2 separate regions of the Homo sapiens genome follow, and region 2 is linked to region 1. The links come from fine-mapping of genetic effects on gene expression. A gene starts in region 1. The other region holds a variant in brackets. All regions are shown on one strand. Distances are from middle to middle.

The links. PIP is the estimated chance that this variant, and not a neighbour inherited with it, causes the effect.
Region 2: its variant is the best candidate, but not a certain one, in a credible set for the expression of FAM53C in whole blood (TOPMed, PIP 0.58).

The regions. Positions count from the first base shown.
Region 1 is chr5:138,334,303-138,342,630 of GRCh38, reverse strand. FAM53C (family with sequence similarity 53 member C) reads right to left here and starts at 4,365. Exons shown (of 5, transcript NM_016605.3): 1 at 4,324-4,365; 2 at 1,218-1,447; 3 at 765-822. The coding sequence starts at 1,295. It overlaps LOC100128966 (a long non-coding RNA gene), which reads right to left. Exons shown (of 4, transcript NR_146628.1): 3 at 7,146-7,246; 4 at 5,485-5,757. It also overlaps a transcript of CDC25C not described here. RefSeq lists silencers at 3,916-4,005, 4,056-4,405 and enhancers at 4,486-4,965, 5,136-5,215.
Region 2 is chr5:138,279,834-138,288,161 of GRCh38, reverse strand. CDC25C (cell division cycle 25C) reads left to right here. Exons shown (of 14, transcript NM_001790.5): 11 at 895-993; 12 at 1,532-1,665; 13 at 2,029-2,140; 14 at 2,321-2,893. The coding sequence ends at 2,470. Among named protein-coding and RNA genes, the nearest start is that of GFRA3, 9.4 kb to the right of the region's middle. The variant G/A (reference allele first, on the strand shown) is at 4,156.

The DNA.
Region 1 (8,328 bases):
CTCAGCCTCCCGAGTAGCTGGGATTACAGGCATGCGCCACGACGCCTGGCTAATTTTATATTTTTAGTAGAGATGGGGTTTCTCCATGTTGGTCAGGCTGGTCTTGAACTCCCGACCTCAGGTGATCTGCCCACCTTGGCCTCCCAAAGTGCTGGGATTATAGGTGTGACCCACTAGGCCCGGTCCCATTTTTTTTTTTAAAGGTACAAAATAATATATAGTATGCAACCTTTTGTGTTAAAAACGTGGAAATAAAATAGATGCAGCTAACCACCATGGCACATGTACACCTATGTAACGAACCTGCACGTTCTGCACATGTATCCGAGAACTTAAAAAAGAAAGGAAATAAATATATACATTTGCTTCTTTTTATATAAAGAAATTCTAGTCACATATACTGTATAAGAAACTAATACTTTTAGGGAGGTGGTAGAAGCTGGGTAGATAGGGAACGGGAGAGTAAGAGAGACTTTTCTCAGCATAACCTTTTTGTTGTTATTTTTTAAATTTTGAACCATGTGAATGTATTACCTATTCAAAAAATTAGATTATACAAGTCCCCACAAAGCTAGAATAAGAGCAAACCAACCAGATAACTTTCATGCTAGAACATGAAAGACAACTGTCAATCTCAGAAGTTGACCCTGGCAAGAAGGTTCTAGAGGTAGGCTCGCTAGCCCTGGTCACTGGAAACCAATGATAGAAATGTGTGGAGAGAGGAATGGGTACACACACGTACACAAACACACACGATGCCTTACCAGACACAAGCTGGAAAGAGTTCCCACAGTTGGAGATGTCTGCATGATCAGGCAAAGGCTAAGAAAGAGAGAATATCCATCATGATTTGGATTCAGGACACACTGACAGATTTCTAGGAAGCCCTCTTCAGTTCTCCTCTGCGATTCATGAGCTACAGGGATGTTAGGGACATTAAGTGTTCTTCCTCTTGTCTTCCCAAAGTTAGTAAGTCAAACAATCCACATCTTCCAACATCTCAAACCCTTCTCCACCCAAGTTTTGCTGTCCCTTCTCTATCGGTGGAAAAATCCCTGCCCCCTTCCTTTTGGGCTGGGTTTTGAGCCATTAGTGGGCTCTTCCAGGTTAAGTACCATGATTCATACAGCACAGGACAAGAGTAAAGTAATAGCAACAATCAGCCTCAGAAAAAAGGGGGAGGGGGTCGTGGAGAAGCAGGAAGACTGGTCTTTTACCAGACTGATGCTGAAGCGTGTGCATTTCAGCTCATCCAGAGTCTGCTTCTGTAGCTGCTCAGTGATCAGGGTTATCATGATTCTCCCCAGGATTTGACTTGCACACTTTGGAGCAAATGATGGATGTCTTCCCTGTTGTTCTTCCAGACCTCACTTGTGAGCCGTCTTCTGCCACTGCAGCACCATTCTAGCACCATTGGGACTTCCCTCTCCAGTCATGCCTGCTGAGTCTGCCAATTAGAGGGACCAGCCCCAAGTGATATTAGAGATGCACCTGGTCCAGAGATGGAAAATGCATGGCACACATACCACAGCACCCCTAAGCCAGGCCTCTGGCAGACATCAATTGATCACAGCTCTTTCCAGCTAAGCCTAAACACAGCTTCAGAAATTATGAACTTGGCAGTCCAGATATGAAATAAAATAGAGTTGGCAATCAAGTTGAAACTTATTTGCTACCCTTAAACTGGTTCATGCTCTGTTGTTTCTAACTGGAATACCAGCACCACTTAGAAAACAGCTGCTCAAGTGAGAGAGAGGGATGCCCAAATGATTATTTCCATCAAGATCAGCCCAGTATTTTATCTTCCAGTCAGAAGTGAAAAGAGGTACCCTTCTCCTAAACTACAGAAATAGTAATAAGAGAACAAGGAAGAACAGTGGTTGTAGGCAAGACTTTCTGCTTTAGACCTGAGTACATAGGATTTTATGTCCTCCCACAGCCTAAACATCTGATATATTATTGTTTTCCAATAGATACAGTGTTTGTTTTCTTATCAAATGGGAAGATAAAGAAATGGTCAGGGTAATTCCAATACATTTCAACTCTACAGACGTCGTAAACAACAACTCCATGACTGTTCAACTAAGTTTTTAGCCTCATCTGATGCAAAGTCCATGGATACAGTTAACCAAGATTCTTTCTCGTGGTCAACTTCTGATAGAAGCAAACTAACTGTATCAGATAACAGGCTTCAAGCCCACACAATTACCTGAGGGGCCTTGCTCAAGGGAAAAGGGGAGGTTAAGCCAGTGTCTTGATTTTGTTCTATCTATTCCCGGAAATGAGCAGCAAGCTGACAGCTTACCAGAGAATGTGTGTAGCATTAGCTAGTCAAGAGAACAAATCATCAAGAAATCTAATTATTAATCCAATTTGCTAAGAGTTTTGACAAATCATTTAATACTCCTTGGCCTCAGTTTACCCATATGTAAAGTGGGCAGAATAATCTTAACCTGTCACAGGAACAATATAACATATTAAAATGTACAAAATGTACCATCTGACCTATAAAAATCAGGAGTCCACACAGACTACCATTTCTCGTTCCCGTTTGTGAATCTTCAAGGCCTCAGAATGTCAGAAGTAATGAAATCAATAAGATGAAGAAGGCAATAGGGTCCATCTCTCTGGCTGAATACCATCCTCCCTCACCTGCACACTAAGAAAAGCCCAAGAGGGCTCTTCCTTCTGTGACCTTGGGGGCAGATCACTCTACAAAAAAGAGGAATTATCTCTACCCCACTCACACCTTAGAAGGAGGGCACAAGGAAGAGCAAAGAGATAAACCTGGATGTACCTGGAGTTCTCTGGAAGAAAGGTGCAAGAGAAGTCAATCATCATTACAGTTAACTATCATTTTCATGCATAATTATTACCACCCTGAACAAAATTCTAGCTTCCGGGGAGCTCTCTTCAGCTGCTTCCCCTATATTCTTACGGGAGAAGCTAAAGCTTATATCACTTCTGCTCTTGGTTTCTTAACTCTGCTGCCCTCAAAGATCAACCAGAGAGGGAACCTAAGTGCAGGATTTTACCCTAGAGACCCCAGGCCTCAGGCTAACCAGCTATGAGGAGCAGGGAATGAAGCAAACTCTCCAGCTTTTCATGAGGCATTTGGACAAACAGCAAACTCCCAGCCACCTCTAGGATCAAGTCAAGACAGTGAATTTGTGTTTTTCTGCATTTTAATTGTTGGGATGTGGCCACACACAGTGGTAATTGGAACAATGCAACTACCACCACGCAACTGATACTCTCAGCCTGAGTTTCCTAAAACAGGCCAGGCTGCGAGGGGGAACAGAACGGAAGCCATAAGGAATCAAACCAGGACACAAAAGAAGGCAAACCAGCTCCGCGAGGGGCCTCCTCTTTCTCAAGCAGGCATTGAAAAAAGTGTAAGAAGCCCTCTCTTGCCGCCTTCCTTCCCCTTCCATTTTGTGTATCTGAAGGGTAGAGACAGCCCTGAATATTCACTAAACAAGTTAAAACTTCTCAGTTTAACAACTGGCACGGGGCTCAGCCCTTCACAGAGCAGCAGGCCGCTAGGCCCTCTCAGCAACCCCACCAGACCTAACTCTCAGTCCAGGCTTTCCCTCCACCAGCAGCCCCCAAAAATAAAGATCAGACCCCCACCCCATCTCCTATTGGATGGCAGTAACCCCTGACACTCCTGTTTCAGGGATGCTGAGGTTGTGCTGTACCAAGACAAGGTAGGATCAGGTCAGGCCAACAGGGAGGAGAGTCACAAACCCTTTGGGGACCTTCCCCTCAGGTCCCAGCCCCACACCTCCTGGGGAGACTGAAGAAAAACATGAGGAAGGCAGGGAGCTGCATGAACAGGTAGGTGGAGATCTGCCTGCTCTTCTTCCATATGGTTCTGGTGGGGAAAGGGGTGACAAGTGGGGAACACCCCTCCCCCCACCCCCATGAAGAAGCAAAAGGCTAGGCCCCTCCAATCTTCAACCTCTCCCTCTGTTGCCCTGCCTGTCCCCGCGGGGTGGGGCATGGGGCGTCCGCTGGTCCCCGGGGCGGGGGGGGGGGTGCGCCAGGGCTCGCTCAGGGGGGCTGTCGTTCGCCTCTTCCCACTAGGTTCCATCATCTGGCCGCGGGAAGCGAACTCAGGACGCAGGGGATGGGGAGGGTCTGGGACTTAGCACTCCGCCACCCCCTCCCCCACCGGGTCCCGTGCTCTCCCCGCAGAGGCGGCCAGCGAGGCCCGGCCGCGCGGGCGGTCGGGCTGGGGGAGGGGAAAGAGGGAAGGAGGGAGGGACGGTTGAGGTGCCCGCCCCGAGGCCCCAGCGCCACCTGCCCTCCACCACCTACCGCGGTTCCTCCAGCTCCCAGGGCCGCGGCCGGAGCAGCTCTGAGCGCTCGGTTCGCCCCACGGTGCCCTTAAAAGGCGCTGGCGCGAACCAACGAGTCCCTGAGGAGAGTAGGGGGACAGCTCCGGCTCGCAGAATCCCCCCAAGCCACCCATGGAGGGCGCAGCTCCGTGTCGTGTCTCTCTCAAAGTGTCTCTCGGACAGCGCTGTTGGGAACGAGCCTGGCGCTTTGATTTAGGGATGGGGGTGGTTTCCTCACTAACGAGTCACCCCCTCCAAAATATCGCAGAAAGTGGACGGCCCCAGTTGGAGGCACATCTTGAAACCCGCGGGGGAGGCCATGTCGGAAGAAGGTAAACAAAGGCATCGCCCCTGCCCTCCCTCCCTCCAACGGCCCAACTGCAGCCTCCCACTCGGTTCGGGCCGCGTCACGCAATTAGCCACAGTGCCCCTCACCTGCTCTGCTGCCCCGCCCTCCACGACCACCTCTTCGAAGGAATCCCCCTTCCCCCAGCAAAGGACCCGTCCGCGGCGTGAAGGCTGCTGGGAAGTGTGGTCCAAGCGCGGATTAGGGCCTGCTCGGAGTCCCAGGAGCCCCTCTTGCAGCTGCCGGATCGGCCTGAACCTTAAAAACCCAGGACTTATAATGGTTGCGGGGACGTTTCCACTTGGTTCTGTAATTTGCCCTCACCCAGAACACTTTGTAAAGCTCAGGATAGCCCAGGGCTGTTCACTCCCTCTCTTCTCTCTCCGCCCCCTCCCCCCCAGCAGGATGAGGTAATGGGATTGTGATTATGACATCATAGGCGGTTCAGTTGCTTGCGTTTGCCTGGGGGGAGGTGCGGGGAGGTGGGGAGAAGTGCGGTGGTTAGACTTTCCTTAAACAGAAAGGGAAGGAGGAAACAGGCAGATGGGGAAAAGATGTTGACGGCGCTATATTTCCACTTCAGGAAGACAAAACCACCTTTTATTAAGTCTCCACCACTACCACCACCTCCCACATGAGCCAAAATTTAAGTCTTTTTTAAAGAGATTGAATGTAGACGTTAGTGTGTGAAGAGGTTGGGTTGATGGTTTCTGGCTCTTATGTAAATTCGAGTCTCAGCTAGCATCACAGATGGTTTAGGGAGACAAGCAAAAAAGTGGATAAAGGAGAGGCTTTAAACAATGCGTTCGTGTTGTGATCTCTTTGTAATACAAAGTTTTCTATTTCTTTTTTTTAATTGATTGGAAAGTAGCAGTAATGCAAGTAATCTTCACTATTACACTTAGCAGCAAGTCCTCTGAAAGACATCTGTTTTCTGTAAATATTTTGTGCCTTACTCAAGACTGGGACAGGTAAATAGCTGTGATCAGCTGGAAAGTAGAGCCAGTGGCGGGGGTCGTCCTCACTGAGCCAGGGAGGGGAGGAGGCAGGAGCCACCAAGTCTACAAACTGAAAAAGAGTAGAGGAAAAATGAGGTACAGTACTAACTGAGAAAATAGGGGTGGAAAGATTTACCTTGCACTGCTTATTTCCCCTTGGCAAAAGGAGCAGAGTTAGGGGCCATGAAGTAGGGGACACATGGTTTCCAATAATTGCTCTTATGTACCAGACACCATGCTACATTTTTTTTTTTTTGTAAAAACAGGGTCTTGCTGTTGCTCAGGCTGGAGTGCACTGAGGCGATCACAGCTCACTGCAGCCTTGAACTTCTGGGCTCAAGCAATCCTTTCCATCTCAGCCTCCTGAATAGCTAGAACTACAGGGGTGTGCCACCATGCCCAGCATATTTATTTCTATTTTTGTAGAGAGAGGCGTCTTGCTATGTTGCCCAGGGTAGTCTCAAACTCCTGGCCTCAAACAATCTTCCCATCTTGGCCTCACAAAGTGCTGGGATTGGCGTGGTGTCTCACACCTGTAATCCTAGCACTTTGGGAGGCTGAGGCAGACGGATCACCTGAGGTCAGGAGTTCGAGACCAGCCTGGCAACAAAGTGAAACCCCGTCTCTACTAAAAAATACAAAAATTAGCTGGGCATTGTGGCGCCCATCTGTAATCCCAGCTACTCGGGAGGCTGAGGCAGGAGAATCGCTTGAACCGGGGAGGCAGAGATTGCAGTGAGCCGAGATTGTGCCACTGCACTCCAGCCTGGGCAACAGAATGAGACTCTGTCTCAAAAAAAAAAAAAAACAAATGAACAAAAAACGAAGTGCTGGGATTCCAGGTGTGAACCACCACACTTGACCTACATACTTTGATATATATTCTCATTTTTTCTTACAATCATCAAATGAAACAAAACCTTCTCTTTGACAAATGAAACAGCCCAAGAAGTTAAGTGACTGCCCACATGGTAGGCAAAGGTACTCTCAAAAAGCAGTCTAAAAGCCCTTGCTTTTCACCACTAAGCTGTTCACCTTTTTATTATTAATTAAATTAATAATTTAATTATTATGAATTAAATGGTTGAGTTAAAAGTAGGCATTGGCTCATTTGCAAAACATTGAAAGAAACTGAGACCCAAAACAAAACAAAAAAAACAAAACAAAAAAAAAAACCCTGCAAGTCAAGTTTCAGGCCTCATTTCAAAGGAAGGTTACATCCCCTTTCGTCATCTATAAAATGGCCTCCCAGTGCAGCCCAACACTCCTACCCATAATTAAATCTCCTTATTCCACTTTTAGTTCCCAAGGATTTTTTACTCATGTCCTGCTCTTTCCCTGCTGCCCCCTTTTTAGTCTTTTGTTCTTGAGCCACTGCTTTGAACTGCATCTTAATTATGCCCTCATGGGCCAAACCCCATCTGTGACCCTGCTCCAGTGGGTTTCAGCAAAGGATACTCTCCATCCATATTCTGAGGGCTCCAGGGCCTGGAGCCAGTCATCCAGGAGGTCATCCAAAGGAGTGGAATCCATTGGTTCTAAGACTCTTCATTCCCTGCCTAGGAAGGAACAGCCGAGTTGGAGGAACATGCACTCGATTCAGACCTTCCCTTTTCACCCAGTGAAAGCTAAACCTCTGCAAAGTGGGGAGAAGTAGGGCTAAGCCTACCAGTCATAAAAAGAACCAGGAATAGAAAACACACCCCTCAGCCCCTCTGCCCTGCAGAGGCTGGCTGGGAGGATCCCAGGAATGCAGGGCTCTTCTCCACTGCCTGATCTGGGCATCCCAGGAGTGATGGCTGTACCTCCTGTTCTTGTTTGGTGTTTCAGGGTGAAGCCCGGGCTGTCACTGTGCCCTGGCAACAACATGTATGAGTCAGACTGAGGTCAAGGTGAAGGAACACAGCTCACTGCTTATCACAGTGAATCAGGAGCCTAGATAGGGATTCCCCAAGGATGACATAGGATCAATGCCCTCAATCCAACAGAAAAAGTAAATCTTCAAATCAGATTAAACACCAAACTTCCCACCTCCCTAATATTCTTTCTTCTGGGAAGGATAACTTAGATATATTCCAACACCCTCATAAATCAAGATATAAAAGACAATATTTGACTTCCCTTTAAAATAATTCTACCATTTCACAGTTTGTATGTATGCATGTAAACTTACATGTAATTAGCTAAGTATGTTGCAATTAGCTAAGCCAGCTGGAATCATGAGGAGATAGTGAAAATGTTTGCTAGGAAAACAACCTCATTAACAAACGTAGAGCTTTTAAGAGTTTTGTTGGCTGGGCATGGTGGCTCACACCTGTAATCCCAGCACTTTGGGAGGCCGAGGTGGGTGGATTACCTCAGGTCAGGAGTTTGAGACCAGCCTGGCCAACACAGCGAAACCCTGTCTCAACTAAAAATACAAAAATTAGCCAGGTGTGGTGGCGCATGCCTGTAATCCCAGCTACTCAGGAGGCTGAGGCAAGAGAATCACTTGAACAGAGGTTGCAGTGAGCTGAGATTGCGCCATTGCACTCCAGCCTAGGCAACAAGAAAGAAACTGTCTCAAAAAAAAAAAGTTTTTTTGTTGTTGTTTTTAGGAGACAGTCTCACTATGTTGCCCAGGCTGGCCTCAAACTCCTGG
Region 2 (8,328 bases), 54 kb after region 1:
AGAGGTTGCGGTGAGCCAAGATGGCACCATTGTACTCCAGCCTGGGCAACAAGGGCGAAATTCCATCTCAAAAAACAAAAAAAAAGGATCATGATGAACGTATAGTATTGCAATTTGCTTAGTGAGACATTATAGACATCTTTCTATATCAATAAGGTATCTATATTATCATTTTAATGGCTATATAATGCCGCTCTATTCTACTGACATGTACAATTTATTTTACCAAACCCCTATTATTGAATATTGAAGTTATTTCTAATATATTGATAATATAAAACAATGCTGAGATGAATATAATTGTGCCTACATCTTTGTGTACTTTTCCTGTTTACTTAAGATGTTAGAAATTGCTGAGTCAAAGTGTGATTACATTTATTTGTATATGTATTTACAAAGTTCCCTTCAGAAAGGCTGAACCAATTTGCACTCCTACAAGTAGCTTCAGTTTCTTCCTTCCTTTAGGTATCAACCTTTCCCTTCCATATCCTTTCCTGAAAGACTTACTTTCTTCCTTTTTGATGGTGGGTAGGGAACCATTTTGCATTTCTTCCTGCAATTTCAAGCTCTCTAGCTGCTGCCTCTGCCACTGCAGAAGTCCTTGGGCATCTCCTGAGTCCAGCCATGCCTATCCCCAGATGGGTAGCCTGAATATGGTTTTCCTTGGTATCTTGTCAGTGCCAGCTATTTTGGTTCTCTAAAAGGGCCACTTCCTGTTTCATTCTCTTTTGTGGAGTGGGGCTGAATCATTGCCACATATCAAATATGGGGTGACTTTGGAGGCTGGACATACAGTGGACAGAACAGGAGTATGCTTGTAAGGAACTGTGTCATTGACCCTTCTCTCCCTCAGAGTGGCAGTGAGCAGAATATTCAGTCATTGTTTCTGTCCAGGTGGCTGCCTTACTGTCGGGGAAGTTCCAGGGTCTGATTGAGAAGTTTTATGTCATTGATTGTCGCTATCCATATGAGTATCTGGGAGGACACATCCAGGTGAGACGACATTGTGGCCATTAGTAGGGGAGGGCTGGAGATAACTCTTTATTGAGAAGAGTCTGTGGACAAAGGGGTCTATGAACTCTAGAGTCAGGACAAAGATTACATATTTGAAGCACCTCAAGGCTGAGGTCCTCATTGTTTTAATTCTGTATACCTTAAGCAGGTTACTTTCCCTTTCCCTCCTAGATCTATCTCCCTCTTTTCTGTAGGAGCCAAGGGGTCCTACCTAGAAATAAAAACATTAATCCAAGGACTGAAGCACTTTGCAAACACTTACTATTCATGAACATTCCTCGCAGTGATCTCTATACTTCCAGTGGTTCAGGTCTATAAACATTTATTGACCATCTACAAGCTCTATGCCAGGCGTTCAGGGTATATACAGAGATATACTTAGACCCCTGCCCTAAAGGTGCTTATAGTCCAGCTTTTCTGGTCCACATTATCCCAGGTTGGCGTCTCAGTCATTTCTAAGTATTGGCACTGTCTATAAGCCCCTGAGGAAATACTTACTAAAATTCTTCTTCTACAGGGAGCCTTAAACTTATATAGTCAGGAAGAACTGTTTAACTTCTTTCTGAAGAAGCCCATCGTCCCTTTGGACACCCAGAAGAGAATAATCATCGTGTTCCACTGTGAATTCTCCTCAGAGAGGGGCCCCCGAATGTGAGTGTCTAAATGGGGTCTGGCGGGTGATGGAAATGGATTTTGAGTTGGACTTCCCACACCAGTTCAGACAGAGACTGACTGGATTCTACAGTTTGAAGAATGTTAGGGAGGTTGAAGGAAGACGTTTCTAAAATTGAAAAGTTTGAAACAATAAAGGAAAAGGGATTGAGAATGAGGCTGCAGTGGAGGAAAGGAGGAAGGGTGGTACTACTTGGACCTTTTTTTGCAAACACAGGGAGATTGGAAAGTCCTTTTTGAGGTTGGCAATAGTCTACTCCTCTCCCCCCTCCCCAGTGAATGGCCCCTGGGATCCTGACCTTGTTTCTTTCCACCCCACCCATCTCTGGGTTCTCTCTAAAGGTGCCGCTGTCTGCGTGAAGAGGACAGGTCTCTGAACCAGTATCCTGCATTGTACTACCCAGAGCTATATATCCTTAAAGGCGGCTACAGAGACTTCTTTCCAGAATATATGGTAAAGGGTGGGGCATGCGGGGAGCCAAACTTTAACAACTCAACTCCCAGGGCCTGCAAAGCCTTCAGAGAAGAAACTGCTGCTCCTCCTTAGCCACTGCCAGCAGCAGCATCTCTATTATCCTTCATAGGTAGAGTTCAGGAGTCTAGAGAATCCCTTACTCTGTTCCTTACCTTTCAGGAACTGTGTGAACCACAGAGCTACTGCCCTATGCATCATCAGGACCACAAGACTGAGTTGCTGAGGTGTCGAAGCCAGAGCAAAGTGCAGGAAGGGGAGCGGCAGCTGCGGGAGCAGATTGCCCTTCTGGTGAAGGACATGAGCCCATGATAACATTCCAGCCACTGGCTGCTAACAAGTCACCAAAAGACACTGCAGAAACCCTGAGCAGAAAGAGGCCTTCTGGATGGCCAAACCCAAGATTATTAAAAGATGTCTCTGCAAACCAACAGGCTACCAACTTGTATCCAGGCCTGGGAATGGATTAGGTTTCAGCAGAGCTGAAAGCTGGTGGCAGAGTCCTGGAGCTGGCTCTATAAGGCAGCCTTGAGTTGCATAGAGATTTGTATTGGTTCAGGGAACTCTGGCATTCCTTTTCCCAACTCCTCATGTCTTCTCACAAGCCAGCCAACTCTTTCTCTCTGGGCTTCGGGCTATGCAAGAGCGTTGTCTACCTTCTTTCTTTGTATTTTCCTTCTTTGTTTCCCCCTCTTTCTTTTTTAAAAATGGAAAAATAAACACTACAGAATGAGAGGTGTGATTGTGAGCCTAGCCTGCTCCTAGAAGATCTGTCTACAGAGGAGATCACCAAGTTAGACTACTTCAGACATACTATCTTTATTCATAGCTGAGGCCAACATGCTTTTCTCTAAACCAGTAATTCTTAGGCCGTGGCTCACACCTGTAATCCTGGCACTTTGGGAGGCCGAGGCGGGTGGATCACTTCAGGTCAGGAGTTCGAGGCCAACATGGTGAGACCCTATCTCTACTAAAAATACAAAAATTAGCCAGGCATGGTGGCGTGTGCCTGTAGTCCCAGCTACTCAGGAAGCTGATGCAGGAGAATCGCTTGAACTCAGGAGGTGAAGGTTGCAATGAGATCGTGCCACCGCACTCCAGCCTGGGCAACAGAGAGAGACTGTCTCAAAAAACAAATACCAAACAACCAGTAATTCTCAAAGTTTGGACCCTAGATCATCAACATCATCTGAACTTGTTTGAAATACAGATGTTCAGGCCTCACCCCAGACCTCTTAAATCAGAACTTGTGAGGTTAGGGCACAGAAATCTGGGTTTTAAAAATCTCCCTTTTCAGTTAATTCTAATACATGGTAAGGCTTAAGAACCAGTGCTCAGTAATCCCAGCACTTTGGGAGGCCAAGGCAGGCAGATCACTTGACGTCAGAAGTTCGAGACCAGCCTGACCAACATGGTGAAACCCCATCTCTACTAAAAAAAATACAAAAATTAACCAGGCATGGTGGCACACACCTGTAATCCCAGCTACTAGGGTGGCTGAGGCAGGAGAATTGCATGAACTCAGGAGGTGGAGGTTGCAGTGAGCCAAAATCCACTGCACTCTAGCCTGGGCAACAGAGTAAGACTCCATCTCAAAAAAAAAATGAACCAATGCTCTGGAATTAAGGTAAGCCTTTCAAACAGTTTTCTTCAGCAATGTCCTGGGCTTTCCTTTCCTAGATCATTCCATGGTATGCGTTACTAAAAGTGCACCACAGACTCAGCAGCATGTGGTATCTAGACATTCTCTAAGGCAAATGACAGATCTCAGCTGGGCTCAAAGGTTCCCTCTTGGCAGTGGCTCACACCTGTAATCCCAGCACTTTGGGAGGCTGAGGCTGGCGGAACACCTGAGGTCAGGAGTTCAAGACCACCCTGGCTAACATGGCAAAACCTCGTCTATACTAAAAATACAAAAATTAGCCAGGCATCGTGGTGGCTGCCTGTAATCCCAGCTATTCGGGAGACTGAGGCAGGATAATCACTTCAACTTGGGA[G/A]GCAGATGTTGCAGTGAACAAGATTTTTCACTGCACTCCGGCCTGGGTGTCAAAGCAAGACTCCATCTCAAAAAAAAAAAAAAAAAGTTCCCTATCTATAGCCTTAGGGGGGTTTTGACTTTTAAGTCTTTTCTCCACTCCATTTCACGTCTCACAAAGACAAGTTTTAGGATTTAGGATGGTTGGAAGTAGAGATTTGTGATATATGAAGATAGGAATAAAACAAAGCAAGATCCATTAGACTTCAGGAAGATTTTTTAACTGTACTCTTCTGCAGTATGCCAGGGTTTCCTTTCTTGGAGCTTTTTAATATGAATAGGCCTTTATCTGTAGTAAGGTGTGGCACTACTTGGTCTTGGGTGGCAGTAGAACTGACTGAACATTGTCATTCTCTGGTATTAACCTAGTAGGACTGATAGCCCAGGACGGAACAGGACGAAGCCCTCTACAGCCTAGGCTGAGACAGAACAGAGACAAACATACCCTCTTCCCAGGCTCTGGAACAGAGACACTTTTTTAAAGTGAGTGGGAGGGAAGGGGGGTTGTAGCCATAGGGCGGCCCATGCACGTGCCTGAGTGGTTGGACTGGCTTTTAATTTTTTTATTTGACAAGGTTTGCACATGCTCTTGCCCTAGAGTGTCACATGCATGCTTCACAGCAGAGGGCACTGCTGTTTTCTCCAAGCCATCCTGCTGAAGTCTGTAGCTTCCATTCCTAGCTACTGCCTGTCTGTCAAAAAGGAAGCTGTCTCTGTGGCCTTCTCCCTAATCCCTTGAACTCAAAGCCCAGAAGGTCTAGGGGAAAGAGAAAAGCTGCTGCTACGTTAGGTGGAGATGGCCAAAGGAAAGATGCTGCTCCTCTGCCCCACCCACACACGTGCCCCTATAGGAATTCCTAGTAGCCAGAAAAGAAAACTGCTTGAAGCACCTCTTCGAAGTGTGAGGAGAGGTCCTTAACTCACTGCCTACCCTAGTGGGTCATTTCCATTTCCTGATAATTCTCCCCAGAAGGCTAGAACCAAGTCCCAACATAGATAGAGATTGATGTACATGTGCCCACTAGTCAGTAGTCTTAAGTGGAAAATCTGAGTTGCAAAACAAAACACTAAGGCTTAATTATCTTCCTCATGGAAAATTGTATTTTCACCCAAGTCAACATTTTTTGGTATTTTTTATTTTATTTTATTTTATTTGAGACAGAGTCTTGCTCTGTCACCAGGCTGAAGTGCAGTGGCGCGATCTCAGCTCACTGCAACCTCCACCTCCCGGGTTCAAGCAATTCTCCTGCCTCAGCCTCCCGAGTAGCTGGGATTACAGGCATGCACCACCACGCCTGGCTAATTTTTGTATTTTTAGTAGAGACAGGGTTTCACCATGTTGGTCAGGCTAGTCTTGAACTCCTGACCTCGTGATCCACCCACATCGGCCTCCCAAAGTGCTGGGATTACAGGCGTGAGCCACCACGCCTGGCCTAATATAAGCCCACTGATTTCTTGTAATATCCTCTCATTGTATAGGGACTATATGATTTGATTCATGTTATTTTCAGGAATAACAATAGTAGCTAACATTTTTCAGGTGCTTACTGTATACAAGGCTATCTCTAAACTCATATATATATATATATATATATATATATATATATATATATATAAACTCCTATATAAATACACACTAATTTAATTTTCACAAGCCTGTGAAAGAGGTATTCATTATTATGAGCATTTCTTTATGAAGATAAAGAAATTGAGGAACAGAGGGATTAACTCTTTTTTATTTTATTTTATTTTTTTTTGAGACAGGGTCTCACTTGTTGCCCAGGCTGGAGTGCAGTGGTACAATCTCAGCTCACTGAAACTTCCACCTCCTAGGCTCAAGCAATCCTCTCACCTCAGCTTCCCAAGTAGCTGGGACTACAGGCATCTGCCACCACACCTGGATAATTTTTGTATTTTTTTCTTTTCTTTTTTTTTTTTTTTTTTTTTGAGACGGAGTCTCACTCTGTCGCCCAGGCTGGAGTGCAGTGGCGTGAACTCGGCTCACTGTAAGCTCCGCCTCCTGGGTTCACACCATTCTCCTGCCTCAGCCTCCCGAGTAGCTGGGACTACAGGCACCCACCACCATGCCCGGCTAATTTTTTTTTTATTTTTTAGTTAAGACGGGGTTTCACCATGTTAGCCAGGATGGTCTTGATCTCCTGACCTCATGATCCGCCCACCTCGGCCTCCCAAAGTGCTGGGATTACAGGCGTGAGCCACCGCGCCTGGCCTGCATTTTTTTTTCTAATTTGAATTTTTTTTTTTTTTTTGGAGACACAGTCTCGCTCTGTTAACAACCTGGAGTGTAGTGGCGCGATCTCGGCTCACTGCAACCTCTGCCTCCCAGGTTCAAGCGATTCTGCCTCAGCCTCCTGAGTAGCTGGGACTACTGGCATGTACCACCATGCCCGGCTAATTTTTTGTATCTTTAGTAGAGAAGGGGTTTCACCATGTTGGCCAGGCTGGTCTCGAACTCCTGGCCTCATGATCCATCGGCCTCAGCCTCCCAAAGTGCTGGGATTACAGTTGTGAGCCACCGCACCCAGCCCTCTCCCTTCTAACTTTCATGGAGGCAATCTGAGCTCTAGTCTTCAATTGGAGCCTCCCAAAGTGCTGAGATTACAGGCGTGAGCCACTGCACCTAGTCAAGTAATAAGATCTCAAAGCTAATTAATGGTGGAGTAGGGATTTGACCCAAGACAGTATGGCTCCAGAGCCTGTCCACTTCATGGATTTTGCTGTTACCAAACCTTCATCAAAGAACAGTGTGCCTGGCCAGGTGCAGTGACTCACATCTGTAATCCTAGCACTTTAAGAGGCCAAAGTGGGAGGATCCCTTGAGACCAGGAGTTTAAGACCAGCCTGGGCAACATAGCAAGACCCCATCTCTATAGAATAAAAATCAACTTAGCTGGGCATGGTGGTGCACACTTGTAGTCATAGCTACTGGGGAGGGTCAGGCAGGAGGATGGCTTCAGCCCAGGAGGTTGAGGTTGCATTGAACTATGATCCATCCACTATACTCTAGCCTGGATGACAGCAAGACCCTGTCTAAAAAAAAAAAACCACTGTGCCTTTCCAGAGTTGGCCCTGTATTGGGTGTTAAATCTATAAGAGCCTCAATGGTAAGCTCTTGAGAATTTAGGGCCATAAGGGTTGCTTTGGCTTGAGAGATAAGGATATGAGCAGGCACTAAAACCCCAGCCCAGAGACCTCAGTATGAGGCTATGTAGGGGGTGTGCTCGGCATTGGTGTCCTTGCACTGGTATTTATTCATCAGGAGGTAAAGAAATATTGAACAGAAATGTTTTGAGCTAAAAACTGCTTCTCGAGGCTGGGCGCTGTGGCTCATGCCTATAATCCCAACACTTTGGGAGCCTGAGGAGGGTGGATCACCTGAGGTCAAGAGTTTGAGAGGAGCCTGGCCAATGTGGTGAAACCCCATCTCTACTAAAAATACAAACAGGCCAGGCATGATGGCTCACACCTGTAATCCCAGCACTTTGGGAGGCCAAGGTGGGCAGATCACGAGGTCAGGAGATCGAGACCATCCTGGCCAACATGGTGAAACCCCGTCTTTATTAAAAATACCCAGCTACTCGGGAGGCTGAGGCAGGAGAAGTGCTTGAACCCAGGAAGTGGAGGTTGCAGTGAGCCAAGATTGGGCCACTGCACTCCAGCCTGGTGACGGAGACTCTGTCTCAAAAAAAAAAAAAAAAAAAATTAGCCAGGAGTAGTGGCAGGCACCTGTAATTCCAGCTACCAGGAGGCTGAGGCAGGAGAATCACTTGAACCTGGGAGGTGGAGGTTGCAGTGAGCTAAGATCACACCATTGCACTCCAGCCTGGGTGACAACAGCAAGACTCTGTATCAAAAACAAACAAAAACCTGCTTCTTGGGCTAGGTGCGGTGGCTTAAGCCTATAATCCCAGTACTTTGGGAGGCTGAGGTGGGAGGATTGCTTGAATCCAGGAGTTTGAGACCAGCCTGGGCAATATAGTCAGACCTCTGTCTCTACAGAAAATTTAAGAATTAGCCAGGTGCAGTGGTGCATGTCTGTAGTCCCAGCTACTCAGGAGGCTGAGGTGGGAGGATTGCTTGAACCCGGGAGGTGGAGGTTGCAGTGAGCTGAGAT